Regions from separate parts of the Homo sapiens genome. Here regions 1, 3 and 4 are each linked to region 2. The links come from fine-mapping of genetic effects on gene expression. A gene starts in region 2. Each other region holds a variant in brackets. All regions are shown on one strand. Distances are between the middles of the regions.

Region 1 (8,106 bases), 43 kb before region 2:
ATTACTGTAGTTTTCTGGTAGGTTTTGAAATCAGGAACTATGCCTCTTCCAACTTTGTTCTTCCTCTTCAAGATTGTTTTGGCTATTTTGGGTTGTATTTCCATGTGAATAGCATGATCAGCTTGTCAATTTCTGTAAAATAAAAAAAAAGTTGGGATTTTGATGGAGATTGCATTGGATTTCATTTTTCAGGATTATTCATTGCTAGTGTATAGAAATACAATTGATTTTTGTTTATTGATCTTGTATCCTGCCATATTTCTTTTCTTTTTTTTTTTGTTTACAGTCTTGCTCTGTCACCCAGGGTGGAGCGCAGTGGCATGATCATAGCTCACTGCAACCTCCAACTTGTGAGCTCAGCAATCATCCCATCTCAGTCTTGTGAGTGGCTAGGACTACACATGCACACTCAGCTAATTTCTAAATTTTTTGCAAAGATGGGGGTCTCACTATGTTGCCCAGGCTGGCCTTGAACTCCTGGCCTCAAGCGTCCTCCCACCTCAGCCTCCCAGAGTGCTGGGATTACAGCCACCATGCCCAGCCACTGCCACATTTCTGAGCCTGTTTTATCTTATACTCTTATCATGGTGCTTTACTGCTTACTCTGTGGGAGGCATCATGTTAGACACTAGAAATAAAAAGATGGGCTGGGCATGGTGGCTCATGCCTGTAATCCCAGCACTTTGGGAGGCCAAGGCGGGTGGATTACCTGAGTTTGGGAGTTTGAGACCAGCCTGACCAACATGGAGAAACTTCATCTCTACTAAAAATACAAAATTAGCTGGGCATGGTGGCGCATGCCTGTAATCCCAGCTACTTGGGAGGCTGAGGCAGGAGAATCGCTTGAACCCGGGAGGCGGAGGTTGTGGTGAGCCGAGATAGTGCCATTGCACTCCAGCCTGGGCAACAAGAGTGAAACTCCGTCTCAAAAAAAAAAAAAAAAAAAAGAAAGATGAAGAAAACATGGTCTTTGTCCTGAAGAAGCTTATAGCCTAATTCAAAAAGTAAGACATAAACTTATTGATTAAACAGTAGCCCTTGACAGCAACATACAGGGAAGTACATAATTGCCAAATGAATGTTACCAGATGATTAGAGATCTAGCAAGTTCAGGGGATGAGGAGGGACGTGGAGGCTATAGAGGTCTAGGAGAAATAGAGGAGGAGGGATCTGAGCTGGGTTCGAAGGCTCACCTCCTTCCCTTCCTTCTTTCTCCCCTTCCTTCTTTAATTTTCTTATTTCCTTTTCTCCCTTTTCTCTTCCTACCCATCTTCTTTGAAAACATTAATAGAATATAACCATGGTTGGTTATCATTTCTCAAACCTGGCGATCATCAGAATCTCTTGGCAAGCCTTTTAAATATACAGATTCCAGAGTCTCATGTCAGACCTATTGTATCATATTCTCAGATGGTGGGGCATGGACAACTGCATTAAAAGTTTTATCTGATTTTCAGCCAGGTTTGGAAATTTCTGGATATGACTATAGTCATGATTTCCACACGTGGACCAATCCTCATCTTCATTCCACTGCAGCTCTGACTCTGTTTAGGATGCTCACAAGGCCAGCAGGTCACACGGGCACCTAGTAAGGGAGGGGAATTGGGCCTGTGCAACAGCTCCTCCGTTCATGAACAGCATCTCAATCTGCATACGTTACTGAGAGGGCTCTTCAGTGTCATTTATGTTTATGGGGATGGCTCATTATACAGATCAAACTTTTATTTTCTGTAACTGAGAATCTAAGAATCTCAAAAGATCCTTCCGCTGTCGATGGCCATGACCCTCAGAGTTACCTGTGGGATATGGACTCATTATCCAGATTTAATAAATAATAACGGCTTGCCATGATAAAACCTTCTAGTTACAAGAGAAGGCCCTTCCCTCCCTCCCTCCCTCCCTCCCTCCTTCCCTTCCCTTCCCCTCCTTCCTTCCTTCCTTCCTTCCTTCCTTCCTTCCTTCCTTCCTTCCTTCCTTCCTCTCTCTCTCTTTACTGCTTTCTTTCTTCTCTTTTTTTTTTTTTTTGAGACAGCATCTCACTCTGTTGCCCAAAACAGGCTGGAGTACACTGGTGCACTCACAGCTCACTGCAGCCTTGACCTCCTGGGCTCAGGTGATCCTCCCACCTCAGCCTCCCGAGTAGCTGGGACTACAGGCATGCACCACCACAGCTGGCTAATTTTTGTATTTTTTGTAGAAACAGGGTTTCATGATGTTGCTCAGGCTGGTCTAGAACTCCTGGGCTGAAGCTGTCTGCGCATCTTGGCCTCCCAAAAATGCTGGGATAACAGGCGTGTGCCATTGTGCCCGGCCGAGAAGGCCCTTTCATTTCAACTCTCTCCAGAGGTAACCAATCTGTTGAAGACTGTGAGTGTCCTTCCCACATGTTTTTATAGTTTTACTACACAATAGGCAAGTTTTGCATGTTTAAACCTGTATGTAAATAGTGTACATATTTTTTTCTGTAGCTTTTTTTCTCAACATTGTGATTTGGAGATTTATCTGTGGTACTTGTAGAGCTAATCCATTCTATATAACATAACATTATATTATATAATACTGCAATGTAGTGCTCCATTGTGTAAATGTTCTAGAATCTATTCTCCTGTGGGTGGATATTTGTTATGGCCAGTTTTTTGCTATTCCAAATCATGATGTAAATCATGCCCTGGTGTACGTCTCCTTGAACACATGTGTGAGAGTTCTAGGGAATATATCTAGAACAAAAATTGCTAGGGAATAGGATATGCGCACTTCCGACTTGACTAGATTGCCTTCCAGCTTACTGTCCACAGCAGCTGAACCAATTGTTATATATCTCATCAATGATATACAAGAATTTGTCTTGTCCCACATTCTAACCAACGCTGTCAAGTTTTTTAAAAATACACATATCTAAGCCCTATTTTCATAGATTCTGATAGGTTCACTCTGGAGTGTGGTTTGAAATAGGCTACAGGTGGTTCTAAAACACAAATAAAGTTAAGTCTGCTCCAAGTATGCATGTGTATATGATCTAATATATTGATATGTGGATTGTCACGCTGAGGTTACTCTGGTGCTCTGTTGGTAGCATCTATGTTGGCTGGATTTAGATGTTTGAGGAAAGGGTGGGGAAGTACCACTGTCCAACATACAGATACACTTTGAATAAAAAAGCGGTCTGTGATTTACCAGTGCACTGGGCTGTAGTTGATCTAAAGCCCTACCTTTGCCAGCTACGTGAATAGGGTGGGCCCTTTCTAAGTGCTGCCTTCCCTCTCACCAGGTGTGTGGCTGGGTATCAGCTGTCAGGGCTTGCATACGTGCGGTCGCTTAGGGCAAGGTGCCTGTCAGCTATGTCTGCCAGCCCGCTGGGTGGTGTCACTGTGTGGAGCATTTGTGGCTTTTTCAAAGCCCTGAGGAATCTGAGAAGCAAGTGAGGGGAATGATGCATGAAAACAAAAGGCAGTGGAAAGAGTGACCAGCCAGCAGGCTCCAGCAGGCTAGAACGCTCTGTCCTTGTTATTACTGCTTCAGGAAAATGCTGCCAGCTTCCTGGCAGGGCCTGGAAGGTAGAGGCTTCTTGAGAAAACAAGGATAAGTGATG[C/T]GTACTCTGAGGCTGAGATTCCGGTTCCCCAGCCTCCCCGCTTTTCCAGCAGAAGCTGCAGGGTGAGGATGGGGAACCGTTTGCTCCTTGGTGGGTTTGGCCAGTCTTTCATTCTCTCCTGGCTGCTGTCCTAAGAGTTTTTTCTCCTTTCTTCCACTCATAAGCAGCACGGCTCTGGTCTCAGAGGCCTAGCAGGGCTGGCCTGGGAGGGAAGCTGGGCGGTGCCCTAGGCAGAGTTGTTCCCTGAGGAGTGATGTGAAGGTCAGCCTAGGGGAGGAAAAAGGGCCTCAGCCATAATTCCCATTCAAGGAGTGTTTGCCAAAGATGAACCTCCTGGTGTGGGGCAATGAGACACGGGATGCGCTCATACCTTGTCCACTTTCCCCCTGGTACTGCATTCACAGGATAGCCTAACCCAATTTTCCGAAATGAGGTAGAAGCTCAGCAAAGGTAAGCGTTTCCATGTTAACTTATTATCAGATGGATGTGAGGACCTGTCGTAATTGGACTTGCCGAAAGTCAACTTCTATTTTCCCTCCTGACAATCACCTTTCTTTGGCATATAAAATACATGGATGCAAATTAGGGAAGAAGTCAGCATTCTTTTCTTCTCTTAAAAAGTAGCGATGAGGATAAAGAATAAAAATAGGCCTCTGTAGATACAATAGGGCTGAGCTGAGGGTGTGGTTTGCTTGGCAACAGCTCAGGCAAAGCTGTTTCTCTTGGTCCTGGAATGCCCTTGACTTCACCTCTGCCTGATGCAGTCTTAAGAGACCAGCTTGATTGTGAGTTTTTTTGGTGAAACTCCCATCAATAGTTAGTCATTCCCTTTTTTCTGGCCCCATAGCATTTTGCTCTTATAAAAACCATTCATCATATTGCGTGACAATTACTGACTTGGGATCATGCCTTATTCTCTGCGTGTGTTTCCTCAGCATCTATGGACTTTTTTTTTTTTTTTTGAGACACAGTTTCACTCTGTCGCCCAGGCTGGAGTGCAGTGGCGCCGTCTCACTGCAACCTTCGTCTCCCGGGTTCAAGCGATTCTCGTGCCTCCACCTCCCAAGGAGCTGGGATTACAGGCATGCGTTATCACGCCGGACTAATTTTGTATTTTTAGTAGAGACAGGGTTTCACCATGTTGGCCAGGCTGGTCTCGAACTCCTGATCTCAAGTGATCTGTCTGCCTTGGCCTCTCAAAGTGCTGGGATTACAGGTGTGAGCCACTGCGCCTGGCCAATGGACTATATTTTAACATAGTAGTTCTTTGATAAATGTTTATTGAATGAATCAAAGTTCCTAAGAAGATATCAGTCCTCAGCTCTTATATTTTCTTAATTATCCCCTGCCTTTTCCTTTGTGGGGTGATCTGCAAGCAGTTTCATCTGCACGTGGAATGGAGGACATGCTAAAAGTAAATGTAGCTTTGTTTTTTTTTCCTCCCCCAAGGAATTGCCTCAGTAGGAATGGGTGTTTCAGATATATCATTCTGTTACAGGTACAAAAAATTGTTTCCAGGAAGCACTGCCATCATTATCTCTGAGAGGCAAGTCAGTAGAAATTGTTATTTTCCATTTACAGATGGACAAATGGAAGGTTTCTTTCTCATTTACCAATTACAGAATGTCCACTCTGTTTAAAGTACTGTGCTAAGATTTTTATGGGCTACAAAGATGTACAAGACAAGGTTCTTGTTTCGAATAAGAATGTCATAATCTTATTTGGATAAAACAATATTTATATAACAAAAGAACTACAACTCAGGAGCATATAGTTTGAGGCATATGAGTGGTCCCAAAAGGAGCCCCAATGGGCCAGGCACGGTGGCTCACACCTGTAATCCCAGCACTTTGGAAGGCCAAGATGGGTGGATGGCTTGAGGCCAGGAGTTTGAGACCAGCCTGGGAAACATAACAAGGCCCCATATATACTTTTAAAAAAATTAGCTGGAAGTAGTGGTGCACACCTGTGGCCCAGCTTCTTGGGAGGCTGAGATGGGAGGATCGATTGAGCCCTAAAGATTGAGGCTGCAGTGAGCCACAATCGTGCCATTGCACTCCAATCTGGGTAACAGAGTGAAATGAAACCCTGTCTCAAAACAAAACAAAAAGTACCAAAGGGAATATAAAAGGCAGGCAAAAGAATGTCCAGCTAAAGTGATCAGGTATATCCTCCTGTCCCATCTGAGATGAACAGGTTTTGTGCTGGTTATTCTCCATCTGGCTCCTGTCCTGGTTTTCTGTGACTGCCGTAACAAATTACTACAAACTGGATAGGTTAAAACAACAGAATTTTATTTTCTCACAGTTCCGGAGGACAGAAGTCTGAAATCAAGTGTTGGCAAGGCCACACTCCTGAAAGCTCTGGGGGAGAATCTTCTCCTTGCTTCTTCCAGCGTCTGGGGGCCCCAGGCCTTCCTTGGCTTGTGGCCACTCCTCTGAGGTCACATTGCCTCCTCCTTTTATCTCTTAAAGTTTCTGCTTCTCTCTTATAAGGATACATGTGATTGCATTTAGGGCCTACCACAGTGATCTAGGATAAGGTCCTCCTCTCAGGATAAGGTCCTCCTGAACTTAATCACATATTTTGCCATGTAATGTAATATTCCCAGGTTCCAGAGATTCGGCTGTGGGCATGTTTTGTTGGCGGGGGAGGGGGAGGAGAATATCATTCAACCCATTATAGCCCTGATATGGTTAGGCTTTGTGTCCCCACCCAAATCTCATCTTGAATTTTAATCCCCATAATCCCCACATGTTTAGGGAAAGACCAGTGGGAGGTGATTGGATCATGGGGGAGGTTCCCCCCATGCTGTTCTCGTGATAGTGAGTGAGTTCTCATGAGATCTGATGGTTTTATAAGGGGCTCTTCCCCCTTTGCTTCTTACTTTTCTCTCTCCTGACGCCATGTGAAGAAGGTCCTTGTTTCCCCTTTGCCTTCTGCCATGATTGTAAGTTTCCTGAGGCCTCCCCAGCCATGTGGAACGGTGAGTCAATTAAACCTCTTTCCTTTATAAATTGCCCAGGTTCCAGTAGTATCTTTAAATTATAGCAGTGTGACAGTGGATTAATACAAGCCCCATGTCCTTCTCTGCCACACTCTGTTCCCGACAAGGATGTTACCCCACAGATTTCGTCCCCTGGGAGCCAGTGCCCTCTGGCTTACTGTTGGGTTTGTCCAATGGCAGGCATCAGCAAGTATCAGAGGGTAGGAGGCAAAAGAGGTTGAGATATTTCTTCTCCTTTCCTCCCTGCTTTAGCGCCATGGGTTTGGCATTAGGTATGCCCCTTCACAGTTCTAGCTCTTTCTGGACTCTGATAAACTGTTTCTCTTCAGGCCTGGACTTCTACTGCTACTCGACCTTGGGTGCCTCAGTATCCGCTTAAGTTCCCACCACCCTCCCTACATCCTTGTAAATATCAATTTCATCAAATGATTTTCAAAATCCCAGCGCAATGTGCCTTCAGTTTTGTGCCATGATCTTGAGTGATAGAGATTCCAAGAAGCAAAAATTTAATTTTCAGAACGGAGAGATATACTCAGGTTACCTCAGTCTAAGCTTAAGACTAATACAAGCCCCATGTCCTTCTCTGCCACACTCTGGCAACGAGGAGTGGGAAGGTGATTCAGCACACAGTGCCGCCCTAGCAACTGGGTTATCTTGTGGGCCCTTCAGTAGTCAGTATCTGTTGCTTTGCACTCTAATTATCTGCTAGTATTGTGACTCTCCACTGCCCTTGCTGTTCAGTACTTTCTATTCTTTTCTCATCTCACAGCTTCTATTGCTGCATGCTTTTTGCTGCCACATGACCTCAGCTTTCTTCCTTCTCTCTGTGTATCTTTTAGTTTCTGCCCATTTCTAACTGCTGACTCTCTCTTTGTATTTCATATTCAACTCAACAAAAGAATCTGCCTAGTTTGGCTGTTCACCATCAAGTGCAGGTGGTTAGGCAGAGCCTTCTTTTAAAAAAAAAAATTATTTTTTTAAAGTAGAAGTAAATGGGGGTCTCACTGTGTTGCCCAGGCTAGTCTTGAACTCCTGGGCTCAGGCAATCCTTCCACCTCAGCCTCCCAAAGTGCTGGTATTACAGGCATGTCCATCATGCCCGGCTATCAAAGCCTTCTTGACAAACCATCTCATGAGCATAGGTCTGATGCCCTAGATCAGGTGTCCCCACCCCTGGCCTAAATGGCTTTGTTTGGAATGGCAGAATAAATTGTTACGTAATTTGGTGTCCTGTCTATTAGAAACCTAGAAGGGGGTTTATGGGTGTGGCAGACATGATGACACTTGCAGGAAGTGGGGAAGGATGGTTATTAAAACCTACAAGTAGCCAGGTGTGGTGGCTCACGCCTGTGGTCCCAGCACTTTGGGAGACCAAGGCGGGAGGATCCCTTGAGGCCAGGAGTTTGAGACCAGCCTGGCCAACATAGCGAGACCTCATCTCTACAAAAAATGAAAAAACAACCCCAACCGCAAATCCTTACCAATGGACTTTAATAAGCTACAGGATCTA
Region 2 (8,106 bases):
TGCAGAGCTCTATACCCGAATCTTCTGTCCAAAGACAGAGACCGAAGCCCTCACACTTAAAGAAAGGGTTTGAAAAACAGCCCAAATAAAGTCTAGACCTTCAACCCAAGAGTAGGAGGTCCAAATTCCGGAGAACTCATCTGAAACACCTGATGAGACTTCTGAAGGAAGAGAGTTCACACTGGTACCAAGCGCTGCTTTCAGAGAGAAACACCACCAGCTGGTTGGGGGGAGTCACTGTGAATCCTGCTGACTTACTCCAGATGTTTTACCTAAAAGGAAGAAGCGGAGGCAAAATTAATATAAGTTGGGAGTTTATTTGGGCCAAGCTTGATGACTGCAACCTGGGAACATAGATTCAGGTTGCCTTGAATATACACTCTGAGTAGCAGCAGTTACAAGTGGATTTTTAAAGGGAAAGATGAGGCAGTGCCTGAGTTATTTACCAAGAATTTACATTAAAATAAATCAAGCTACTGATTGGCTATACATTATGAAACTATAGGATGAGGGTTATAATGTCTGGTGCAGCATTAATTAGTAGGTTAATGTTTAGCTTCTGTGGCAATAGTAAGCAGTTTCAAGAGACAAATACACAGTTCAAAAGTGGGGGAGAAGGACAGGATTGCTGTTTCACTTTAATGCCTCTCTGGGCCTCATAATTTAAAAGGATTTGCATTCCTCAGATAAAGTTCTTTTCTTAACATTTAAACAAATTTTCGTCTTGGTATCATAATATAGCTGTCTGTATGTTAACATAGGAATGCTTTAAATTATTTTACCATTTATAAAATTTGTGATGCAGGAAAGCCATGCTATCCTGGGTCTTTACCTTCTGAGTAGCAATTATACCTCAGGGATACACGTTTGTAGTCTGAGAAGTGCTGGCATTTTTTTTTTCCTTTGCAACTCAGAAGTCTCTAATTAAAGTTCTCTTTTAGCATTATTCATTCACTCTTTGATAAATATTTACTGAACATCTTTATTTGCTAGACACATCAACAGGACTGAGGATACAACTGTGAACAAGATATGTATGACTCTTATCTTCATGGGAGCTATCATTTAGAGAGAAAGAAAGGGGAAAAAAGAGAAAATTAAAATATATTGTGATGTGTGCTAAGATAAAGAGGGAAACTTAGAGTGCTAAGAGAAATGTAAAAAATGTTACCTATCCTGTGTTAGCTTGCATAGGAAAAAAAAAATGAAGAAAACTGTCACCTAATCCCAGAGCAGGTGTTGAAGAAAGATTTTCGGCCAGACGCAGTGGCTCATACCTGTAATCCCAGCACTTTGGGAGGCCAGGCCGAGGCAGGAGGATCGCTTGAGCCCAGGAGTTCAAGACCAGCCTGGGCAACAGAGTGAAACCCTGTGTCTACAAAAAAATTTAAAAAGTAGCTTGGTGTGGTGATGTCTGCCTGTGGTCCCACCTACATGGGAGGCTGAGGCAGCATGATCCTTTAAACCCAGGAGGTCAAGGCTGCAGTGAGTCATGTTCATGTGACTGCACTCCATCCTGGGTGACAGAGTCAGAGTGAGATTCTGTCTCAAAAAAAAAAAACCAAAAAAATTTCCAGGACCAAACAGTCTACAGGATGAGCTGGAGTTAGCCAGGTAAAGAATGGGAAAGAATATTCCATGCCTGGCTTAGAGCAAGCTCCGGAGGCTAGAGAGAACAAGGACTCTATGGGAACAAATTCAGTGTGCTAGTTAGTGGGCAGATGTCAAAAGCGCAAAGGAGAAAAGTGGGGGGGGGGTGGTGGTGAGGAAGCTGGAGAGAAAAATCAAGGCAGGTTATGAAGGGCCTCTGTTAAACAGTTTAGAAGGGTATTGAAAGTCACCAAAAGGATTTAAGCTTAAGAAGAACTAATTAACATGTGTTTTTAAAAAAGATTGCTCAGGAACTATGTCTGGAAAAGAACAAGGACTTGACTTACATTAAGGTAAGAAGTGGAATTATAAAATCTGGGGCCCAAAGGAATTGGAGTGAGTTAATTCCTCCCCTTTAAAGTGTCTATTTTCTTCAAAGATAACCACTATATCATCTCTGGGGCTAACATTCTCTGGCCCTTTCCCACTGTCTCTGGCAGCTCCCGACCCAAGTCACTACAGTTACAGCATTCCCTTAAGGAACACATGCTTTTCCAACCTGCTGCAACACAGAAAGCACATGTAATTTTTTATTTTATTGTATTTTATTTGTTTTTCTGAGACAGAATTTCACTCTGTTGCCCAGGCTGGAGTGCAGTGGTGTGATCTTGGCTCACTGCAACCTCTGCCTCCTGGGTTCAAGTGATTCTTGTGCCTCGGCCTCCCAAGTAGCTGAGATTATAGGTGTATGTCACCACACGCAGCTAACTTTTGTATTTTTAGTAGAGACGGGGTTTCACCATGTTGGCCACGCTGGTTTCGAACTCCTGACCTCAGGTGATCCACCCACCTCAGCCTCCCAACGTGCTGGGATTACAGGTGTGAGCCACCGTGCCGGGCCTGGCCTTTCTATCTGGCTTTTTTGATTTGATATCCTAGTAGAGCCCACTATTAAAATTTCCATCTATAGAAACAGGAAGTCAGGAAAGGACTGGAGGGAATTTCGGCAGGTTAATGATTACAACGGGAAGAGAATACAATTATTGAGGTGTTTTGACTCACTTGGTCATTTCCTGAGAAACTCTTTGCTTGAATTTTTCCACTCTTCAGGTGAAGATGATGACACTGTCCAGGCTTTCAGGAGTCCAACCTCTTAGACAATAAGCGACATACTCTTTGGTAACTGCAGTGGCTAAGCCAAGGAATAAATATGCATAACTACAACAAACAGGTACTTGATGAGAACGTTATCTAGAGCTGCCAGATAATTTAGACCAAGTGCACCTTTTGTTGTAAGAAGCTGGTATGATGTCCACATAGTTTTCAGGGCTGCTGTTCCCTCTAAGAAGAAGGAATAGTCTTTTTCCTGAACTACTCTCTCTCTGAACTTTTAGGCTACAATTATGTCAGTTCAAAGTGGGCAGATTTGCCAACTGAAAAAATGATGACACGCAGCTTCCCAACTCTGTAAGGACTTTTCAGGTCTGTGGGTGAACGTCATTCCCGAGCAAACCAATGCCACAAGATTAGTAGGATGCGGCTCACAAGAAATGTTTACAATGAAGGGCATCACAGACTGCAAACCAAACAGGGTAGGAGGACACGGGACCATTTCCTTTTCCTGTCTCCATCTGACTCTGGAAGGCGGGGACAAGACATTTAAAACCAGGACCACTCCAGGAGGACAGCACATTAGCTACTGCCCTCCAGCTCCCTTCAGTGTTGTTTCCGTAAAGGACTTATAAACTGGCGAGGGCGGTGGCTTCCAAAAGCGCACAGGCGTCCCTTTTCCAACTTGGTCTTCTTATTTTCCCTTCCTGCTCCATAACTACAACGTGTTTCTGTTCGTAATCATCTCGGCTTTTCCTTACCTCTGCTTGTAAGAAAAGTCCTTTGCGCCATTCCCCTCCAAGCCCCAGGGAAGGGCCTGGAAAGCGCTTACACCTCAGACCCAGTGTCGGTCAGCCGTCAAGGAGCGAGCGACGTGGGAAACCCTGAGATAGGACATTGGCCCGGCGCTGGGCTCGGGTAACGATGCGGGGCGGGGAGCGCGGGCGGCCGGGGAGGGCGGCGGCCCCTTTAAGAGCAGGCCACGCCCCCTCCCCTCCTCCCGTTCGCTGCCAGCGGTCGGTGGCGGCCGCTACGGTGCTGACAAGATGGCGGCTGGCGGAGCTGTCGCTGCGGCGCCCGAGTGCCGGCTTCTCCCCTACGCGCTACACAAGTGGAGCTCCTTTTCCTCCACCTACCTTCCCGAGTAAGTGCCGGGCCTTGAGCTCGTGCTGCCCCACCCTTCCGCGTCAGCACGGTTGGGCCAGGGGTGCAATGGAGGGCAGCCGAGCCGAGAGGCCCAGGCGGGGCCTGCTGAGGGGGACGTGCGGCCTCCGGAGTCTTAGTTCAGCTGCTGAGAGCGTTGCTCGGCCTCGCTCGGGAAGGGGTTAGGGTCCGGAGAGCGAGCCCAGGGAGAAGGGGCGAGGTGTGTGGCGGATCCGGGGCGCGCACAGGAGAACCGGAAGCCCAGCGGTTCTGCGCTTGGGATTTGGGGGTTGAGGTTGAGGAGGGCTTGGGGGGCGGACGGCTCTGGGGCAGGAATCGGAGTTGGCGGGGCCCTGCCCGCGGGCAAACTACCCCGAATGTCTGAGGTCGTCCGAGGTGGTCGGCGTCGGGGGACAGTTCAGTCGATTGCTGCCGGGACAAAGTGTAAAGCCGAGGAGTGTCTATTCCAGAGTGGGGTCATTAAAAGTGATTAGCTCTAGAGTAGTGTTAAAAGTCACGGAAGGCTGAAAAGTTGTGGAATCCATCTGAATCCTAGCAGGCGGGGAGAACTTGTAGGATTGGCAGACGTTGTCTTTAATGCCTGGAAGTTCTGAAAAAGATAGGGAGTGGGAAGGAGGGACGTTACCGAAGAATTTCAGTATTACGGCTCATTAGAAGATGGGTTTGTATGGACACAGACACGTTTCCCAGTCCGGAAACTCAAACATAGAAACATCTGGCTTTAATGAATTTGATTTTCAACACCGGCTTTGTCTTGATCCCTGATTTAGGTGTTAAAAAAATTCAGTTGCATTGTTAGGTTTTTGTTGGTGGTGTTTTTTTCTCTAGCAAATTCCTTCTGAAATGCTGAAAATACTCTTACATAGTATCTTATTTATCTTTGGCTTATCTTTGAAAGGAGGAGCAGATCTAACTCCAATTTTACATGCTAGTGGAGGAACTGGCTTAGTAAAGGGTTAAGATCTGTGCAGATCCTGAAGAAAAGTGCTAGTTGTCCCTCTAACCATCTCACAGGACCGAAACGATTTTATGAACGAAACAAATTAATGAATAATATATTTTACTGAGTATTTTACTAAACAAAAAAGTGACTAGATCTGTGAAGCATACTCAAGTAAGTTTTCCATCTGTATTTGAGAAATTCTTCACATTTATCCAAATTTGATTTCACTGGTTATATCAATGAAGAATCTCAAAATGGAGCTGCAACTGGAAGAATCTGTCATGACTGCCAGCCTCCCATTTTATTCACCAGGTCAAGGGTTGGCATTCAGTAGGATCTGGCCCAATGAAGGGTGCCAAGTGACCTGTGGTTTGATCTGGCCTGCGTAGCCTATTCATGGCCATATCCCTGATTGATGCTGAAACCCAACTTTGAATTTGAGAGTGAGCCAGATAAACAGTCCAGCCATGTAGTTGGAGTTGAAATGTGGCCCTATGTACTTGACCTCTGATATTCTGGGCTATCTTGTTCTTGGATCTGAAGTTATTCAGCTTTTTTCTATACCCAGGCTAGGATTATGGACAGTTGGGAATTGGTGTGGCATTGTTTGATCTAACTGTAGAGACATTTTTCTGGTCTTGAATTAGCGTATTTCCAGGACGTCACTCCTTAAATTTTTGATGTAGGCCTGAGGCTTGGATAACACAAGTACCATCCGCGTTATCTGTTGTATAGACATTTTAAGAAAGTACATTTCAAGCAGGAAATGATTTAGTGGGATGGCAACTTTAATCTTTTGTGTCTTGTTACTCTGGCCCCTGGTTTGCAGTGGGCAGAACACTAGTTTTGGAGTTAGAAAGCAACAATTTGAGATTGGAGAAATACATTGCTGCAATTTTCTCAAGTACATACATAAAATAGTATTTAATACATACGTAACTTTCATACACTTCCACTTACTATATCTTGTTTAATCCTTATGACATTCTATTGACAAATGCAGTATAATTTGTATTTAAAGTAAAGTATTAGAAGAGTAATCTAAGCTTTTTTCTTTGAAGGAGTATAGTTGAGTATTATGGAGCTGGAGTTGGAGAATATTGTGTCTGCTGGGTTGGTGTGTGCCATGCCTAAATTATAAAACTCTTGGCTCTGAACTTCTATAAGCAAGCAAGGATATTACTTCTCTGTGTGACAGAAGATGTAGGAAAGGGGTTGACTTTACTTACCTTTGCCCTAAAATCCCCTCTAGCAGCAATTGTTGTATCTTTACTGGCAGTGGAAACCATATTAAGGTACTTCTTAAACAGGTCTCATTTTAGGTTAAAGACATTTGTTGAAATTGTCCACAAAGTGGCAAATATTTGTTGGCATAGATCTAAGCATTTCGAGGTGGCAGTAATAAATCAGTAACAAAAATGGTAAACATTTATGATGTGCCGTCCATTTGCTAGGCTCTCTTATGAACATTTTTAAGTGTATCAACTCATTTAATCCTTACCGCAATCCCAAGAGGAATCTCCGTTTGCCAGATGTTGGAAGCAGGTAGGGAGAAGTTTAAACTTGCCTAAGGTCACACAGCTAGATGGAACCAGAATTTGAATCAAGGTAGTCAGGCTCCACAGTCTGTGGTCTTTAACTATAGTGTTTTACTGCTTCTGCACAAAGGTATATATAGTACAGGAAATCAGAACTTTAAAAGAGCTCTTGTATTAAAGGCACTTACATTTTAGTTGTGTAAAGAAATGTGAAGTCATTAAAAAAAATTGAACAATTTTATCTCTATTTTCTTTCTAAGGACTTAGAATTCTTTTCCCCTTCTTCCAGAGGCAGAAAAAACAAATATTTCCCCTTTCAACTCTTTTTAATTTATTTGGACTTTAAAAATGTTAAAGCAGATTCAGTTATAGGGAACACATTTTTACTTTGAGACTAAAAAAAGGCCTTTTATTTTTGTGTGCTTAGAGATTGCCTGTATTTTACTTTTTTTCTGAAATTTACACCTAATTTAATAATTAAATACACTTATTTAAATAATTCATAAAATTACATATACTCTTATACATAAAAATATTTTGTAAACTGCTAATCCCTGTACTCAAATGTTTATTTTTGTATCTAATAATGATGCTAGTTACAATTTAGTGAGCACCTAATATATGCAAGATGCTTTTTGTATACAGTTTTGTTTAATTCTTGGTACATACCTGTAAGATAGGTATTTTATATATGTTTTGTGGAGGATGAAACTGAGGTCCATACAGGGTAAGTAGCTTGCCCAGGGTCATATAGTTTTCCAGAGGCTTGCCAGGTTTTCTGACTTAAAAACTATTGCATTGTGACTTTAATAACAGTCACCACTTATTGAGTACTTTCTATTCTTCAGGCACTGTACTGAGCATTTAGCATGTGTTCTTTGATATAATAGTCTTCACAAAAACCCTATGAGATAAATATTATTATTCTATTTTAGAGCTAGGAAAAGTGAGATTTAGGGAGGTAAGTTAACTTGCCCAGGTCTAAGAGTTGAAAATGTAAGAGGGGCAGGGCAGGGTGGCTCACACCTGTAATCCCTGCACTTTGGGAGGCCAAGGCAGGAGGATCACTTGTGCCCAGGAGTTTGAGACCAGCATGGGCAACACAATGAGACCCCATCTGCAATAATAATAATGATGAGGAGGAAGAAAATGTAGGTGATAAGGTTCTCATATTGGGCCTTTTGACTTCTGTTACGAAAGCTGTTCATTATTATACATGGCTATTGTATATGTCTAATTGAGATTACAGATAAGCGCTCTAAGGTTAGAACAGCAAGAGAGGGAAAAATAGATTTTATCTTGATGTTTAAGATTTTAGTATACTCATATGAGAACTGGGAGAAACTTTGAAAGTATTTTTTACATATTAGGTAATTTCATTGGTATAGAATGATTCTTATCTTGTTTACATATTATTGAATGACTTAGATAATTTAGATGATAAAATCTGATAGATTTTTAAGTGTGTTTACCTTTTTCCTGTTAGTCTTATTACTTAAAATCAAATAGTACTTAAAATAGTACCTTGTGTCAACATGTGATTGATTCATGGTTCAGAGTACAAGTGTTATGATTTGACAACTAGAATAGAAGGTGAATTTATTTCAACTCTTTTCAAAACTAATTTTAAAATTTCACATTTAAAAATGAATATAGGCTAGGCACGGTGGCTCATGCCTGTAATCCTAGCACTTTGGGAGGCTGAGGCAGGACCATCACTTGAGACCAGGAGTTTGAGACCAGCCTGGGAAACATACCCCA
Region 3 (8,106 bases), 440 kb before region 2:
ACTGTGATAAGACATCTTGAGTTGGGTCCTTGTTTTCACATAAAGCAAGAGGCTAGTTTCCTGAAAATAAGTCTCCATGAAGAGACTGGCTACCCAGTTAACGGCAAAAAACCCCCATGGCTCACTAGTAAAGAGATGGAAGAAAACCAGTTGATAAATTAAAAAGGGCTCATTCATTCTCTTTCCAGGGCATGCATAGGAGAACAGAGTGAGACAAGTGGGATCTGCTTATTTTGTTGAGTCTTTCAGTGACTTTCAGCTGCAAGGGCAACTCTACTGAGAAGGAAAGATTTCACTCAGTAAACATTAGCATGTTTCCAACCCTGCCTAGCCTCTCATTTCCAACAATCAACTTGATTGTTCTGTATTTTTAGGCCAGGATACACTAGGGCTGAATTTCTGTAACTCAGGATGTTCTATTTTAATCATCAGCAATTTTAAGGCATGGCAACATCTGAAAGAAAAAAAAAACGTAATGACTCTTTCTTACACACAGAACATGCACTTAAAATTGTCAAAACTCTCCATCTCCAGCATTAAAACAATCATCTTTCAAGAACAAAATCCTTTCTCAGTGTCTCTCAGCCCACAAGCCATGAGAATGTGTCTCCATTTCAAAACCCAGTCTGTACCGTCATGCTTCCGCTGTTTCTCAGCAAGCTGCCTTTCTTTGTAACTTTTTTCTTCCAAATCTGATTGATAGTGAAGCTGGAGCCTGAGATGTAAATTAATAAACCACACCAGGAACTCCTTGCATGGCAAAAGCTGAACAGTACAAATCCATTGTTTTCCTGGATGTGAAATGCCAGTCTGTTCTTGCATGAGCAAACTGGATTAAAGTCACTTTCCTTGGGGCCTGCGGATTTCACAAGGAGAACTGCATCTGAGCAGGACACTTCTTTAAGATGTAGCTTCAAAATGTTTGGGACATTGGACACAATAGTCCTAAGCTGAGTATTCAGGCCGGACTATGGGTGCAACTGGTACTGCCCTGACGAGGGGCCACACAGCTCTAAGTCCTTCTTTGTTGCCCCATGTGCCTTGAATGGATGTTTTCTTATAGGAAGCGGATGAACAAGTTAACACAGGATCTGGCTGGGCTGCTTACTAACTATGTGATCCTGGGCAAATCATTTAATTTTTCTGAGCTTCGGTATCCTGATCTGGAGAATGGAGATGCGAATTTCTATATTGCAGTGGTTGTTAGGGTCATATGTAATGCAGTCTGTAAAAACAGTGGGTCACTTTTAAAGCACTATGTGAATGTTTGGTGTTTTATCAGCTGGATCAGAACACTGGAGTGCTTTTGAGGGAGAAGGCCAAAATGAACTGAAAAGTGATGGGAAGTGTACTCTGTGAAATAGTCATAGCTTCCATTTTTGGAACACTTAACGCATGGCAGACACTATGCTATGTGCTTCACATGGACTTTCTTGGCATTCACAACCACTAACATGGTTGGTGGTGGCATCTTCGTCTTTCAGAAGAGGGGCTAGAGACTTAGAAAGGGTACATGACTTCACTTCCTCTTGGTCACAGAGCTGGAGTGGCAGACTGGGACTCAAACTCCAACATGCCTGATTGCCAGCCCAGGCATTCAGCCAGCACTCTTTACTGCTCTGTCCTTTATACCATTCAGCGCATCTTCACATGGACCTCTGAACAGTCACTGGCCCCAAGTCTCAGGGTTTCATCAGTAAGTACATGAGTAAACCATGAAAGCCAGCTTTGGTCATGAGGAGTAGAAGTAGCACCAAATAGCTCACCAAGAGAAAGGGAGAAAAATTGGAAATTAGCACAATTTGGCTTGCACTGAATGGTCAGAAGACCTGGACCCTCCACCACACTTCTGACATGCAGTGTGACCTTAGGCCAGTCCCATCTTCTCTAAAGCTTCATTTTCCCACTAACCTTAAAGAAGTTCAAGTCAAAGAGCACAGTGATGAGTCCCACAGATCATGCTTGAGATGGTGACAGTGTTAAAATACTGACTCCAAAATACAGCCTGGCAGTTTATCTTCTCGAGTTTCCTGTTTCTATGACACTGTACGGTGAGATGGCCAAATGCAGACTCCAGAGCCAGAATGCCAAGCTCTGCCACCAGCTCCTCACACAACCCTGCACAAATCACTTTAACTCTCTGTGCCTCAGTCTCCTCATCTGTAAAATGAGGGTAATAGGCCGGGTGCGGTGGCTCACGCCTGTAATCCCAGCACTTTTGGAGGCTGTGATGGGCGGATCACGAGGTCAAGAGATTGAGATCATCCTGGCCAACATGGTGAAGTCTCGTCTCTATAAAAATACAAAAATTAGCTGGGCGTGGTGGCATGTGCCTGTAGTCCCAGCTACCTGGGAGGCTGAGGCAGGAGAATCACTTGAACCTGGGAGGCGGAGGTTGCAGCAGTGAGACGAAATCGCGCCACTGCACTCCAGCCTGGCGACAGAGTGAGACTCCGTCTCAAAAAAAAAAAAAGATGGTAATAACTGGACCTAGCACATAAGGTTGTTGTGAGGATTAAATCAGGTAAATATGATGAAGCCATCTGAACCAGTGTTAGCACAATGTAAATATTCAGTAAATGGTAGCTATGATAATAAAAGTAATACATTAGTTTTCAATAAGCACATTATAAACAGAGATGTGGCTAAGAGATCCACCACAGCTGGTAAATGGAGAGGGTGCAGAGATCCTGCTGTCACATGCTTTGCCATACATTGACATATTCTGGAGTAACTGACTGCAAAGCTGAAATGGCATCCCCAACTGAATTTACTGAAATTCATATATTTAATATTTTTGACTGCCTTCTCTTCTTCCCAGTCTAAGACCTGAATATGGGATCTATACCCTTGTTTTTAAGCAGGAGTTCATGTTATAGATTCTTCCTGACCGTAAACCGGGAGTTGGGTGGTTGAGAGAAAAAGAGTAGAGATCAAATACTAATGATCATTTAAAAAAACATATCAGGCTTGTCAGGCACGGTGGCTCACACCTGTAATCCCAGCACTTTGAGAGGCTGGGGCAGAGAATCACTTGGCCCAAGTTTGAAACCAGGGCAACACAGGGAGACTCTGCCTCTACAAAAGAAATTTTAAAAAACTAGCCAGGCGTGGGTGGTACACGCCTGTGGTCCCAGCTACTTGGGAGGCTGAGGTGGGAGGATCGCTTGAGCCTGGGAGGTTGAGGCCGCAGTGAGTTGTGATCACACCACTGTACTCCAGCCTGGGCAACAGAGCAAAACCCTACCTCAAAAAAGAAAAAGAAAAATGTACTGAGGAATCATCCAGGGACAAAATAAAACTCCCTTGAGGTTGACTTATAAGCAGAAGCCTCTACTTACGTAGGTGTAAAAGCAGTCTGTTAACAGATATTTTCCAGGCACAGAAATCCTCAGGAGGCATTTGTTCAGAAGACCTGCACCTGGAATTTAAATGACAGTATGAGCTCCTAGGAAATCTCCTGGAGTAACAGCAGAAGAAAAAGTCAGTTGTTTTCTCGTAAACATGTTTCTCCACCAGTGTCACCAACAGATGCATTTTTAAAAACA[A/G]GAAATAGAAAGCACCTTCTCTTTCCTGCTTAAGACACACAGGTTGGGAAAGTTCCTGTACAGTGAGCAACACATGCCCCCTCATGCTGGTGCTCTGTGCGGGAGAAAACGTGAGGTGTGGCCGTTGCTAAGGAAACCGCTGACACGAGGCAGAGCAGCAAGGTTTGCTCAGCAAGGTGTCTTAGGAAATAAAACACAGTCTAAGCCTATAGATCCCATCACAGAAGAAAGGCAGGCAAGGATCCCGCACAGGAGACGGTAGAAGGCTTCTATTTTCACAACTGATTCTGCAGCCTCGTGCTGTAGCAGTACAGGCTGCAGAAGGTTTGTGGAGGGGAGCGCCGGTCTGCAAGGACGGTCTGTGACGGCTTCAGAATCAGGTGGAGGGCAACTGAGAAGAATGGAAACCACCTCACATTCTCTCCTACCTGGTCTAACTTTACAGACGAAATGCATCTTTCAGCTGCATCACAAGAGAGGAAGCCAAGGTCGTAGGGTCTTCATTTCTGAAAACTGATTGTTCAAGTAAATCCTTCAGTCGTCCCCCTGATGCGACCTGCTAGGGAAGCTGGGAGTGCCTTCACAGTGGCTCCAAGGGGGTGTCCTTATAGGGGATTACATCTCAAGACACATTTTACCCAGCAAGAGGCTGCATGACTCAGCAGTCTGATGAAGAAAGCTCTGTTAAGTTACCACCAATTGCAATTTCTAAGTTAATGATTACAGCTCCACCGAGGAACCAGAACACAGCTGAGGCCACAGAGCATTCCCCGTGCTTACTGGCCAGTGGGGATGATGTTGCCCAGATGTGTGGGTCGGAGCTGAATGGTGAAGACAATGATTTGTGATTCGCAGGTGGACTCTTTAAGCCAGGTGCTACTGAACATGCTCTTCAGTGACTGGGAAGCTCTCAAGAAAGATGATATCACAACAGGAACAGATTATGTTGGGAAGATTCTTGAGAGTTGAGATTAAAATCCAAGAGGAGCTCGGCCAGTAAAATAAATGGTCAGAAAAAGCCATTTGATACTGTCCTACAACAGAAAATACATCTAAAAAATCAAGCTGAGAAGTACAGATGGGAAGGAAGAGGCAGTGGGGTAAAACAACAATCAAACCAACGTGAAGCTACCGAACACACAGAATTCTGGAATATTTAAACACTATCATAATAGCATGTTTCCAAAATTGTCTGATTATAAAAATGGGTATAGAAAACCAACGTCAGACAGGAGCTCTTTCATTTTTTTCTTTTTTTTTTTTTTTTTGTGAGATAGTCTCACTCTGTCACCCAGGCTGGAGTGCAGTGGCATGATCTTGACTCATTGTAACCTCCGCCTCCTGGGTTCGAGCGATTTTTTCTCATGCCTCAGCCTCCCAAGTAGCTGGAGTTTTAGGCGTGTGCCACTACACCCAGCTAATTTTTGTATTTTTAGTAGAGATGGGGTTTTGCCATGTTGGCCACGCTGGTCTTGACCTCCTGACCTCAGGTGATCCGCCCACCTCGGCCTCCCAAAGTGTTGGGATTATAGGTGTGAGCCACCGCGCCCAGCCCTCTTTCACTTTTCAACAGTAACTGAAGTCTGTGTCAGATTGTGAGGAACACCTGTCTGCTGCTTTCTGGAAGCTTTCAGTATTTGAAAAAGTGGCTAGGGAAGCTGCTGGGAAGTCCTTCAATTAACCTTAAAAAGCATGTAATAAAACCTAATTATAGAGCATGCTTCTTTCATCCTCTCTGTCACTCCTTTAGAGAATGTGGTGACTTTCTAAGCCACTGTCCCTGCAACCTCCTAGGATTTAGATGTATGAACATTATTTACAGATGGGAAAAACAGAGCACTGAAAGTTTTGGTCAAGAAAACCGTACGGGTTAGTGATGGGGTTTCTCAATTGTGAAGACCTGAGCTTGACAAATGCATTTTCAGCTTCCCAGGATACCCCTGGCTCCTCAGTGAGCACTGGAAGTTTGTCCCTTCTATAGCAGCCCTTGGCAGTTCCAGTCTAGGGGCAGAAGCCAGCCTGCCACTGCAGAGAAGAGCAGCAAGTTCCAGCCCAGCCGGCGAGCACGCTGCACTCATGGGCTTCCCAAGGCTCTGGCGGGAAGTCACGGGTCAAGTGAGGTCTTCTTAGGTGCTCAACAGTCACACTCTGGGGCCTGAAAGGTCTTAGAAGCTTATCTCTGTCAATCTCTGCTTAGAATCAAATCGATCAATCAATACCTTTTCCTTCTCTTTGCTTCTCCTACTGAGCCCCAGCATATTTGAGTGAAGGTACTTACATGTACGTAGCCTTTTAAAAGCCAAGTACTATCAAGTGAGCTCCCATTTCAAGGCACGTTTGAACTGGGAATAGAAAGACGGGCAGCTTAAGCTTTGGGATCATACAGACCCGGATTCAAATTTCACTTGTTACACAGCCTTGGCAAGCTATTCAATCCTTTTGGGGCTTTAGTTTTTTGTTTTTGTTTTGTTTTTTTAATTTATAAAGTAGAAATGATGTTAACTCTCAGAGTTGTTGTGAAAACACAGCTGACTCAAATAAAATACAAGATACATAGATTTTCAACACATTAACCCCCACCACCCCACCACTTTCCCCTGTGAGGGGATGGCACATCTAACATTTTTGGGTAAAATTTCCAGAAGATCTATACAGTCGAGTTGTTAAAAACTGGTGTGAAAGACTAAAATAAGATTAGGCATCAGTAAATCAAGGCTGCGGGTGGGTCTGGGGGCTTCTCTGGAGGGAAAGGCCAGACCAAGGGATGTCCCAACAGGAAGTTAGGAGTCTGGGGAAAGACAGATATGATCTGAAACTGGGACCAGGAAATTCCAACCATTTCTGCCTACTGATTACTCATCATTGATTCACCAAGTTTACAATTTACCAGGAGGATATGGGAGCAAACGAGAGGTAAATCCCACTGAAGTTTAAAACATAAAAATAGACAATGACAGAGGGTGTCAAAGGAAACCACAGGGCATGGCGGGGGCAAACACAGGAGGCGCCGGTCCCCGTGAGCCAGACACAGGAGGGACATGCCACTTCTTCCACGAGGGACTAACTAGCAGCAATGCTGCAGAGACACAGGTCACTTCTCAACATTCCTGGTCAAGACAGACCTCTTAAAATCATGGGTAAATATCCACCGACTGCCTCCTAGAAGCCCGCACTGTGCTGCACGCTGCTGGGGAATACTGAGGAGGGGATGTGAAATGTCTGTATGTGACCCAGGACCTAACTGTGGAATGGAGTCCAATTCTCAGGGACAGAGAAAGTGCTCCGGTGTGTCCTGCTGGTGGAGAGCACAATCGTCATTGGAGACTGGATGAGCTCAGGGCAGGCTGATGGATTATTCAGGAGAGGCTTCATAGGGGCCAGGGGCCTGAGCTGGGCTCTCCAGGGGTGCAGCCTGGGCAGGGGAGAAAGGGAGAACTCTAGGAAGGGGACGGTAAAATCATGCCAGATGTGGCAGGGGTGAAGACAGTGGGGGATTGGGCAGAGCCATGGTAGACATCCCACCGCCAGGGATCAGAGATGACAGGGCAGCAGGCGTGCGGGGGTGGAGCCCACATGTAGATCCCCCGCCCCCGCACACAGGGTCAAAGTTAGCTGGGATCAGGGATGACGGGGGGGTGAGAAGAAGCGTGGATTTTATGAAGAGTAGAAGAAACAGATGTTTGTTAAGACCTAACATGTGGGAGGCACTGCTGTGGACAGGAGTGAGTGAGACGCAGGGCCGGTCTTCATGGAGTTTACAAGCTGGCGGGGGATACAGCCCTGTGGACAGATAACTGTCATTACACGGGCTAAACACTAGCATAGGGGGAATTCTAGGAGATACAGGGACCCACAGGTATGGCACCAGACTATGGGGTCAGAATAAGATCTCACCACAGAGGTATGAGCAAAAAGAAACAGGATATGGTCTGTTCCTTTCAAGCTTCCCACAGGGGCCAGGAGCCCCTTTTGCAGGATGTCTTAATAAATGGGACATAAAGGTACCCATTTGTCTAGAGTGCAGTGTTGGCTGCAGACAGTGAACATATGAAATGATGCCCTTAAAATGCCCTTTGGCTCAAAACGAGTCCCCTTCCCTGACCCTAGCTTTAGAAATCAAAAGGAAGATGATCATGTCATGGGACCCCAAATTACACTCACACTGCAGGTGAAACACTGGGGTGACTTTCACACGCACAGCTAAGAAGGAAGCCAGTTTCCGTATGACTGCAAGTGCACAGAAAATCTAGCATGCCGAACAGGAGGAGCAGTGGAGGGGAGTGCTCGCTTAGGAGGGACCCAGGAGCATGCAGAGCCTCTGTCCTGAATCTGCTCCCTCTATGTAAGGAGGCCATGAATAAGGTACCCATTCCAAGAACAACAGCAAGGGGAGGGTTAGGAGACATTCTCATCCAATGTGAATATAAAAATCTTAAGAAGAAAACAATACCCACTGCTTTCTGTTCCATTGTCCCAGCTTACTGTGTGATTTTCTGTTAGGAGAACTGTACCCACAGCTTTAATTTGATGCATTTGCTGGATCATGCTTTTTTAAACA
Region 4 (8,106 bases), 170 kb after region 2:
ATGTGAATTTAGGCTGGGCATAGTGACTCACGCCTGTAATCCCAGACCTTTGGGAGGCTGACACGGGAAGATTGCTTGAGCCCAGGAATTTCAGACCAGCCTGGGCAACACAGGAAGACTCCATCTCTACTTAAAATATTTTTGTTTTTTAGCCAGGTGTGGTGGTATGTGCCTGTAGTCCCAGCTACTTGGGAGGCTGAGGTGGGAGGATCACTTGAACCCAGGAGTTTGGGGTGCAGTGAGCTATGATTGCGACACTGCACTCCAGCCTGGGCAACAGAGCAAGACCCTGTCTCAAAAAAAAAAAAAAAAAAAGAATGTGAATTTAGCTCCAATTCCAAATGACTAACTCTTAGGCCAGTCATAGCCAATGAAATCATCTGACGGTAGCTTCTGTAGCCCTTAACCTAAGGAGTCATTAGAGGTTATAGTAAATTAGTTTCTCTAGTGGTGCAGAGAGAAATGCCATCGGGGAAATTATCACTGTCTTTTTGGCTAAAGTTTTATATTGTGAACTGGATCCCACTTAACAGCTTAAAAACACAAAAATGAAAGGGTAGTCCTAGTTTATCTTCTTAATTAGAATCATTATTTGGAAATAAGATTTGCAATGTGCTGTCTATCCCCAAACACTGCTGAGCTTGCTGGAAAACAGAATTTAACATGAATGTTGTCTGAAAGCTGTAGGATCAATGGCAAAAAAGGGGAAATGTTTGGTAGGGAATTGGACCAGTTCTAAGGTATCACTTTTAATTATAAAATAATGTCTTCCTTTTTATCTGCTTTTCAGACAGCCTCAGTGAACTATTAAACATTTGTGTGCAAAGTCCTATTTTGCTTATCTAAGGCATTTTGACTTGGAAGTATTAAACTTCAGGAACGAGCTAGAGAAGACAATGAGGGTATGTTAGAGAAGGAAAAATAGGAGCTTTTTGCTTATGGATTTTAGAGGTCCACAAATCGAAAGGAAAAATAAATTTCTTCATTTCTAACCCTAAAATAATTTTGTTAATGAGATGCTGGGAAGAAGACTACCAAAAGGCCTCAAAGCTCATGCTTCTAGAATATTCAGTAATTCTGAATAGTCTTTGGGAAGTAGCATTTCTTGGGAAGTAGCATTTCCCTTCTTCCAAATAACTGTTTGAGATCTTAAAACAGAAAATCCAGTGTTAATGGGCTCTAGATCTTAAACTAGGTGAGCAGCTTCTTACATACAACCAGTTCCTTGTTAAGGATCCAGCAGGAAAACCAGCCATAAAACATTTCAACATGCAGTTTGGGGGCTCCCTTGCTTATTCACTGAGTTTAAGCTCTTGCTGCAACATAGCTCTGTACCATCTGGGATGCTAGCAGTCACAGCAGTTAGCTCAGATATCTGAGCTGTCTGCCACACAAAGCCTGAGGAGATCATCATTCTTCAGTTTCATTCATTACTTAATGAATGCCAAATTAATTGGCAGGAAGAAGAAACACTGTGTGATATACTGAACAAGCCTGTGTGCATGAATAAGGAGCCACTCAAAAAGCCAATTTTGAGCTTTATTTCTCCGTTGTTAACAAATCTCAAGAAAGCCTTTGTTACAGTTTAGCTCATGTCATTTGGTTGGTTTTATTTTCTAGCCCTTTAACATAGGAGGAAAATTGTCATTTCATGTATAACTTGTAACACAGAATTGAACTGATACTAGTTTCCTTGCCTTAAATTAATTATATGTCATCCCAAGGGTCTCTGTTAATTCTGCTTTGCCAAGCAATAATGAGATCTGGGTTTGGCATTAGAAGTATTTCATAATTTTGGTTTTTTATTTAGGTTTCCTCCACATCTGTAAAGTGATTGATTAAATTAGAGGAGGCGTGTAGAATAAATCCCAATCCCATTGCAACTGGCAGAGCTTTATAAATCTTTATAAATTCAGTTACAACAAAGGAGAGGATCCTACACCATTAGAGCCATGCCATCAGGTGTTTGCAAGTGACAGCTGTAGTGTGTTGCCTCAAATAATACCAAGTTATAAATAATACCAAGTAATTATCAACTCACTCCCAAATTTAATAAGATATCAAAGTCCAAAAGGTTACTTAGGAGTAGTCTTCCGTGGGGGAAGATAAATTTATTAAAGAGTCATGTACTGATCTTTTTCTTGGGATTTTTTTTCCTTTCCCAGAAAAAAAAATTATTTTGGTGACTGATCAATTGTAAACAATTTTCTTCCTTACTTACAAATCATCCGTTCAGAAAAATAAAAGTGGACTTCCTTTCCTAAGCATTACAATTAGCCTGGGCAAGAGGTGTTATGATTGTCTTATTCTTTAAGCCGGCTTACTTTTTGGATTTGTGTGAAATGTCTTTTGAAAAGAAAGTAGATAGTATAGTATTAATTAACTACTTTGTATAGTCTTCTGCATAATTTAGAGTTGAAAATAATGTAACATTTTCCTGTGAACAGATTCCTTTATGCGTACATACTTTATAAATATACATACATACACATACACATACATTTTTAAAATGCTCTTTTTAAAGAGATTCTTATCTTGCTCCCACTCCAAAAGCTATGTACAGTTGAGTTATTAGCCTCAGAGGAAGAGTACAGGAAAGCGAAGATGAGGACCTCCTTTTCTTGTGTTGGTCTTGGGAACAAACAGTATTCCGTCTTTCAAATATGGCATATTTCTAAACAGTTTGGGAAAGATGTTAGAATTTTTTAAAAGTCAGCTCTTTTATAAATTGGAAGTACTCAGTAGTCAGAAATTAAGATCCCCTCTGATAGAGATAGATTCTCAAAACCAAAATTGGACTGAAAATTAGATTGAGAAGAAAGATACAACTTCCTCCATAGCCAATAAAATCTGTCTTTCCAAGTCTGCTTATTAATGCTGTGAATCGCTCCTTCTGTTTGTGAAAACATCTCCTGGACTGGAAATGTGGTGCTGTAACCAGCTGAGCCGAAAGTTGGAGAATGTTAAATATCTTATATGGGACTTACGATAAAATGTATTGATGTTAGTGATTGTCAAAATAGGTTTATCATTTAAAAAACTAGGAAATTACTAAGTATAAAGAAGAAAAACCAGTATTAATTAAGTGATGAGACCTGTTCATTTTGTTTTCCCTGACTTATTTCCATTACCAAACATAGTAAAGGCCAGAAAAGATTAAAAAAAAAATTAACACAGCCATTCCATTGTTTTTTACCACATGGAGAAAGGACCAGGCTGGAAGCATATGTCCCCCCACCCTTATTTATATTCCTTTGAGCATTGCCGTTTTCTAGACAGACAATCCGAAAATAATTGTGTTGATAGGTCTGTTTAAGCCTGAACTCTGGGTGTAAAATGTTATCCAGAAGCTATAGGGAGCTGCCTTGCTCAGGTCATTGGAAATTTCAACCCTAAGACTCATTGGAATTTCTAAGTCCGTTATGCACCATTATGGGCATATGGAGCATATTCATACCATGAGGAGGAGTCTTTGTTTATGATGGACTTTTTAATATGGCCATAATTAAACTCACACTCAAAAAGGATGAGCTATTGTCAAAAGCCAAAAGAAAAACAGACAAAATGAACATGAAGCAAGGAGTCCATAAAACAAGAGTTCTTTACCACGTTTAAGCAAATGTCTCTCAAAAAAAATTGTATTTCTGTGCACATTAGCTGAGATTCACACATTTTGCACCTCAGTAGTATTTCAGATGAGACTCAATGTGTGGAGAAAAC[C/T]GCTAACTTGTTTGGTTCTACTCTTACCCCCTCTTCTGTGGCAATGTGGGGTCAGGGCCGTATCCTAAAGTATCCACATGGTCTTAAATGGAAATCATGGGACTCTGGAAAGCTGGCATGAGCTGGTTGGAGCTTTTAAACAGAAGTGCTTTATGGGTATCAGATCTCTTCTGACATCAATTGTTTCAAATCATTGTTGGGCTCTGTCGTGTTCTGCAATCTTCCCCATTCCCCTCATGATCTCTGGCTTATCTTTTATCCAATCTGTATGGACTTTTTAGGATTTTTTTTTTCTTATAGTACAAATAATTTTCAGATCCCAGCTTTGGTAAATGTGTTAATTCTACTTTGTGAATAAATAAATGAGTGATCTGCTAAAAATGGCAATTGTAGAATTATGTTGTATGTAATGTACATATGGAGAAAGAATGTATTTTGTTCATTTTCTTAATAAAATGTTATATATGGATGCTACAAGATATCTCTTGTATTTGCTCAAACTACTTTTGAAGTGAACTTTTAAAATGTTTTTGTACTTTACAGTTGTGTTTTTTCCCCCAGAAAGGTGAGTTTTATTTAGGCTTCCAAAAGGAAAGTGATACGCTTTCGAAGGGCCTTTGGGTGTTTTCCTTTGAGACGGTGCTCAGATGAACAAGTACCGGCCATGCTCACAAAGTTTCTGCGGGGAGGCTTCCACTTATTTAAAGACCACTGGTAAATTATTTCATGAAATGTTCTTCTATCTACTGTTAATGACCACCCTTATTTTATTTGCTTTGTCCACTTGGACTTATGTTCCTCTTTAAAGGGGATATGCTTGTACAGGCTGGAACTAGAAGGAAAGACTGAACTGAAATGGAAAATTCACTGTAGAAAAGATAGTAAAGGGAGAGAACCTAGAAGTGTTGCAGTTTGGGAAAATTCTGGATCCCTGTCCCCATTAAAGGGGAAAGACACTTTATGGGCCAAATCTTGAAAAAACTAAGCTGAGAAATATGCCAGATAAAAGTCCTGGGTCACTGGGGCCGAGTGGTGGGACTCTTAGTAATGAGATCCCCTCTCTGCCCTTTCCACCTCCTGGTCTGCTTTACATCGTGGCTTTGTGATCATGCATTCTGGAGTGAATTGTCAGCTGATTTTATTCCAAACAGGGATCATGCTTTCTCAGTTTACAAATTGAATAATCCAAACCTTACTGCAGAGCTTTCATTTCTAGGGTGTCCTTTGAGTGTGGCCCTTAAGTAACGTTTCTTTGTGTTCTCAAAACAGGAAAGCATGAGGTGCAGTGATAAGGTAAGGAATCGGCCTTTCCTTGGTCAGTCCTCCAGAGAATTAACTCAAAAGGATCAAAATGCAGGACACTACCCTTGATATATTTGTCACTACCTTCTGGTGGGAAGACAGCAGTAAGTAAAGAAGGCTTGGCCCTAAACACAGATGAGAGCCAGCTGCTCCCAGGTCAAGCACATGTGGAGACTGTACTACAGAGCTTGGAAGTTGCTGCGTTAGGAGCTTCTGCCGCCAAAGGAAGATGACCGAGCATCTAATAGGGAAATGGCTGTGTGCCCATGCTCCTGTAACTTCTCATATAAATGACGACTGCAGAGTCCCTAGAAACGGGGAGGGGGGGGGCGTGGGGGGGGTTATTTTCCCTGTAAATGAAGGCAACATTGGTTTATCACTAACTGTTCAGATTCTGAAGGTATTAATATGACTGGAAAGACCATCTGAGGCTTGTACAGTTCTGGCGTAAGTCAAAATCCTGGTTGATGACATTCCTTCTTTAGCACCACGTATGCTACATCTTCCTTTGCCTTTTACATTCTTAGAGAAAAGGAAGAGGGGACTGGAGACTTGGGCTTTCTGGGGCATAGGGCAGTTGGGGCAGCAGAGGATGATGCCACCATCCTTACTCTACAGCTTCACTATTGTCTTACGGGGACTTTTTTCCTGTGGGCTTTCACCCAGCAAAAGCAGCAGCCGTCAATCATATCCTTGCCAGAGAGATTCTTAATATAGGAGAAACTGTAATAAGGAGAAACTACGTAGAAGTAGCCTGCCTAGCACTACGTTCGTAAGTTTTAATGGTTGGCAAACCCCGAGAGGTGGTTAGGACCCTTGGCGATGTACATAGCAGCATTGTACAGCTGCCCTCTAAACTTGGGACATAGAATGGAGAGTCCAGGAGGAATTGGGAATCCTGGCTTTCATTTCCTGATGACCAATGACTTCTGCATAATATTGCACAACTTCTCTGCCTCATTTCTTCTGTGAAGTAAATACTGGCAGCAGATCTTGTTGGCTAGGATCCTATTGATTTTCTTTTTAGGACAGGGTCTCACTGTGTCATGCAGGCTGGAGTGTAGTGGTGTGATCATAGCTTACTGCAGCCGCCAACTCCTGGGCTCAAGTGATCCTGCCTTAGCATCCTGAGTAGCTAGGACTACAGGCATGTGCCAGCAAAACTGGCTAATTTAAAAAAAAAAAATGTAAAGATGGGATCTGGCTGTGTTGCCCAGGCTGGCCTCGAATTCCTGAGCTCAAGCTATCCTCCCACTTTGACCTCCTAAAGTGCTGGGATTAAAGGCATAAGCCACCATTCCCCACCAAGGTCTTTGAAAGCAATAGATATCTCAGTGTTTATCACTAGTGTTAATTATGTAGCCAGTTCTATTCTTTATTTACTTTTTTCCCTTGTGGTACAGAAGAAATCTGTGATTTGGGAGGGAGCTTATAGGGAAGGTTCTGAGTGACAAATGAGCATAACACATTTAAATTGACAACTGAGCGTGTGTCTTGGTTGGCAGGCAGGGATCAGGGTGAATGACCTACTCAGAAAGAGAATGGGATCTTAGGTCTAACTTGTGGCCCACAATAAGCTGTGGGTCACTCTTAGAACAGTGCACCTCGACCATGGCCAGGGTCCTGTGTGAGTTCCTTGTACTTGGACTCCTTTCTGTATCCTTGGCACCCTCTCGAAGCTAACCTCAAAATTACCCGGGCCCAACTCTAGACCTCTCTTCAGGGTTTAACTGCTTTTCACAACAACTTTCATGGAAGGAAAATCATGTTGTAACAGTAGTTGCATTCTAGAAATGTATTTTGCTGTTGTTGGAACTCTGGCATTAACGTGATACTGAGAAAAGAGTGTAGGACTAAAGAGCAAAAAGAGAATCAAGGCCCATGCTGCCATTTAAATGGTTGTGTGATCAATCTCAAAGAGAATACTTAACTCCTGCATCTAATTTCCCTAGTGGGGACAATTCCTATAAGATAGGTTTGTAAACCTATAGGTTTCCTATAAAATGGTTTGTAAATGGTAAGATGCTAGGCAAGTAGACAAGATTGTTGTCTAGCAACTAAGATTATGGACCAGTTCTACCTGACAGTTTCCCTTCTGCAAGTTTGGAATGATGAAGTTTACCCCTTCCGATGAAGAAGCATGCAGCTGTGGATAATACCACACTAGGAGATGAAGAAAGAATCATCTCCAGTGATTCCTTCCTTAAACCGCTATCTATCTTCACTGCAGACCTGGAGGAGGGATAGGCAGAAGCCTCTTGTGGCAGTAAACAGATCCTTTTATGGCAGAAACAGGGCCAGAACAGAGCTTTGTTTTTACATATATATATATATATATATATATATATATATATATACATACACACACACACACACACACACACACACACATATATATGTATATATATAGTCTCTTTGCCAGTGTTTTCATACCTGATCAATGTTCAGCAGCCCTCTTGGGGATTTCTGATAGTGGTGATTCACAATGTATCTGAGGCAGAAGTAGAGGGAAGGAAGACAGCGAAACATACAACGTCATCTTAGGGGAAAGTGAGGTTCTTTAGAGTCACTAGGATAGCTTGAGTAACATAAAGACTCATAACCACCTTTAGGATCCCCCTTTTTTTTTCTTCCGGTTTCTCTCCTTCTCTTGCCTAATTTCTTTGCCTGCAGAGTTGGACAAGTGTAACTCAGCACGGAGGCTCCTGTGCTACGGGTGTGAGCCGACATTCTCAGGCACTTTGGCGATGAGCCTCATACACAAGTGAAGGCTTTAAGAAGTCCGAGGAAACTACTAGAGCTTGAACCAGTTTACACAAAAACACTTTAATTGACAGTATACAATTTTCCAAAATATATTTTTGTAAGAAAATGCAATAATTATTAACTATAGTTTTTACAAACAAGTTTCTCAGTAAATTCCAGTGTACTTCAGACCCCTGTCCACTAAGACATATATGATCCCCCAGTTCCTGGGCAAACTGTTGAACATTCACTGCAGACAAAAAGACCAACACCAAAGAGTCATCTGTGTCCTCCATGCTGTGTTTGCAGCAGACCTGAGGGATCAGCTAGTGACCGTGA

Direction of the effects. Positions count from the first base shown, and alleles are read on the strand shown. Sizes are in standard deviations (SD) of each study's normalised expression. Not every link is listed here.
For the expression in thyroid of the gene that starts at base 3,723 in region 2, T is the low allele of the variant in region 1 and C is the other (small effect, 0.19 SD a copy in GTEx).

The links. PIP is the estimated chance that this variant, and not a neighbour inherited with it, causes the effect.
Region 1: its variant is fine-mapped to the expression of MKLN1 in thyroid (GTEx, PIP above 0.99).
Region 3: its variant is fine-mapped to the expression of MKLN1 in whole blood (TOPMed, PIP 0.98).
Region 4: its variant is fine-mapped to the expression of MKLN1 in whole blood (TOPMed, PIP above 0.99).

What each region holds. Positions count from the first base shown.
Region 1 is chr7:131,281,423-131,289,528 of GRCh38, forward strand. It overlaps a transcript of MKLN1 not described here. Among named protein-coding and RNA genes, the nearest start is that of MKLN1-AS, 42 kb to the right of the region's middle. The variant C/T (reference allele first, on the strand shown) is at 3,590.
Region 2 is chr7:131,324,154-131,332,259 of GRCh38, forward strand. MKLN1 (muskelin 1) reads left to right here and starts at 3,723. Exons shown (of 18, transcript NM_013255.5): 1 at 3,723-3,844. The coding sequence starts at 3,747. It overlaps MKLN1-AS (MKLN1 antisense RNA), which reads right to left and starts at 3,626. Exons shown (of 6, transcript NR_125364.1): 1 at 3,462-3,626; 2 at 2,653-2,782; 3 at 150-272. RefSeq lists enhancers at 3,488-4,064, 3,759-4,058, 4,065-4,641 and a silencer at 3,549-3,708.
Region 3 is chr7:130,880,976-130,889,081 of GRCh38, forward strand. LINC-PINT (long intergenic non-protein coding RNA, p53 induced transcript) reads right to left here. Exons shown (of 8, transcript NR_170176.1): 7 at 3,342-3,421; 8 at 17-1,761. Among named protein-coding and RNA genes, the nearest start is that of MIR29B1, 7.5 kb to the left of the region's middle. RefSeq lists an enhancer at 5,502-6,701. The variant A/G (reference allele first, on the strand shown) is at 3,549.
Region 4 is chr7:131,492,439-131,500,544 of GRCh38, forward strand. MKLN1 (muskelin 1) reads left to right here. Exons shown (of 18, transcript NM_013255.5): 18 at 1-4,194. PODXL (podocalyxin like) reads right to left here. Exons shown (of 9, transcript NM_001018111.3): 9 at 7,833-8,106. Among named protein-coding and RNA genes, the nearest start is that of PODXL, 60 kb to the right of the region's middle. The variant C/T (reference allele first, on the strand shown) is at 3,721.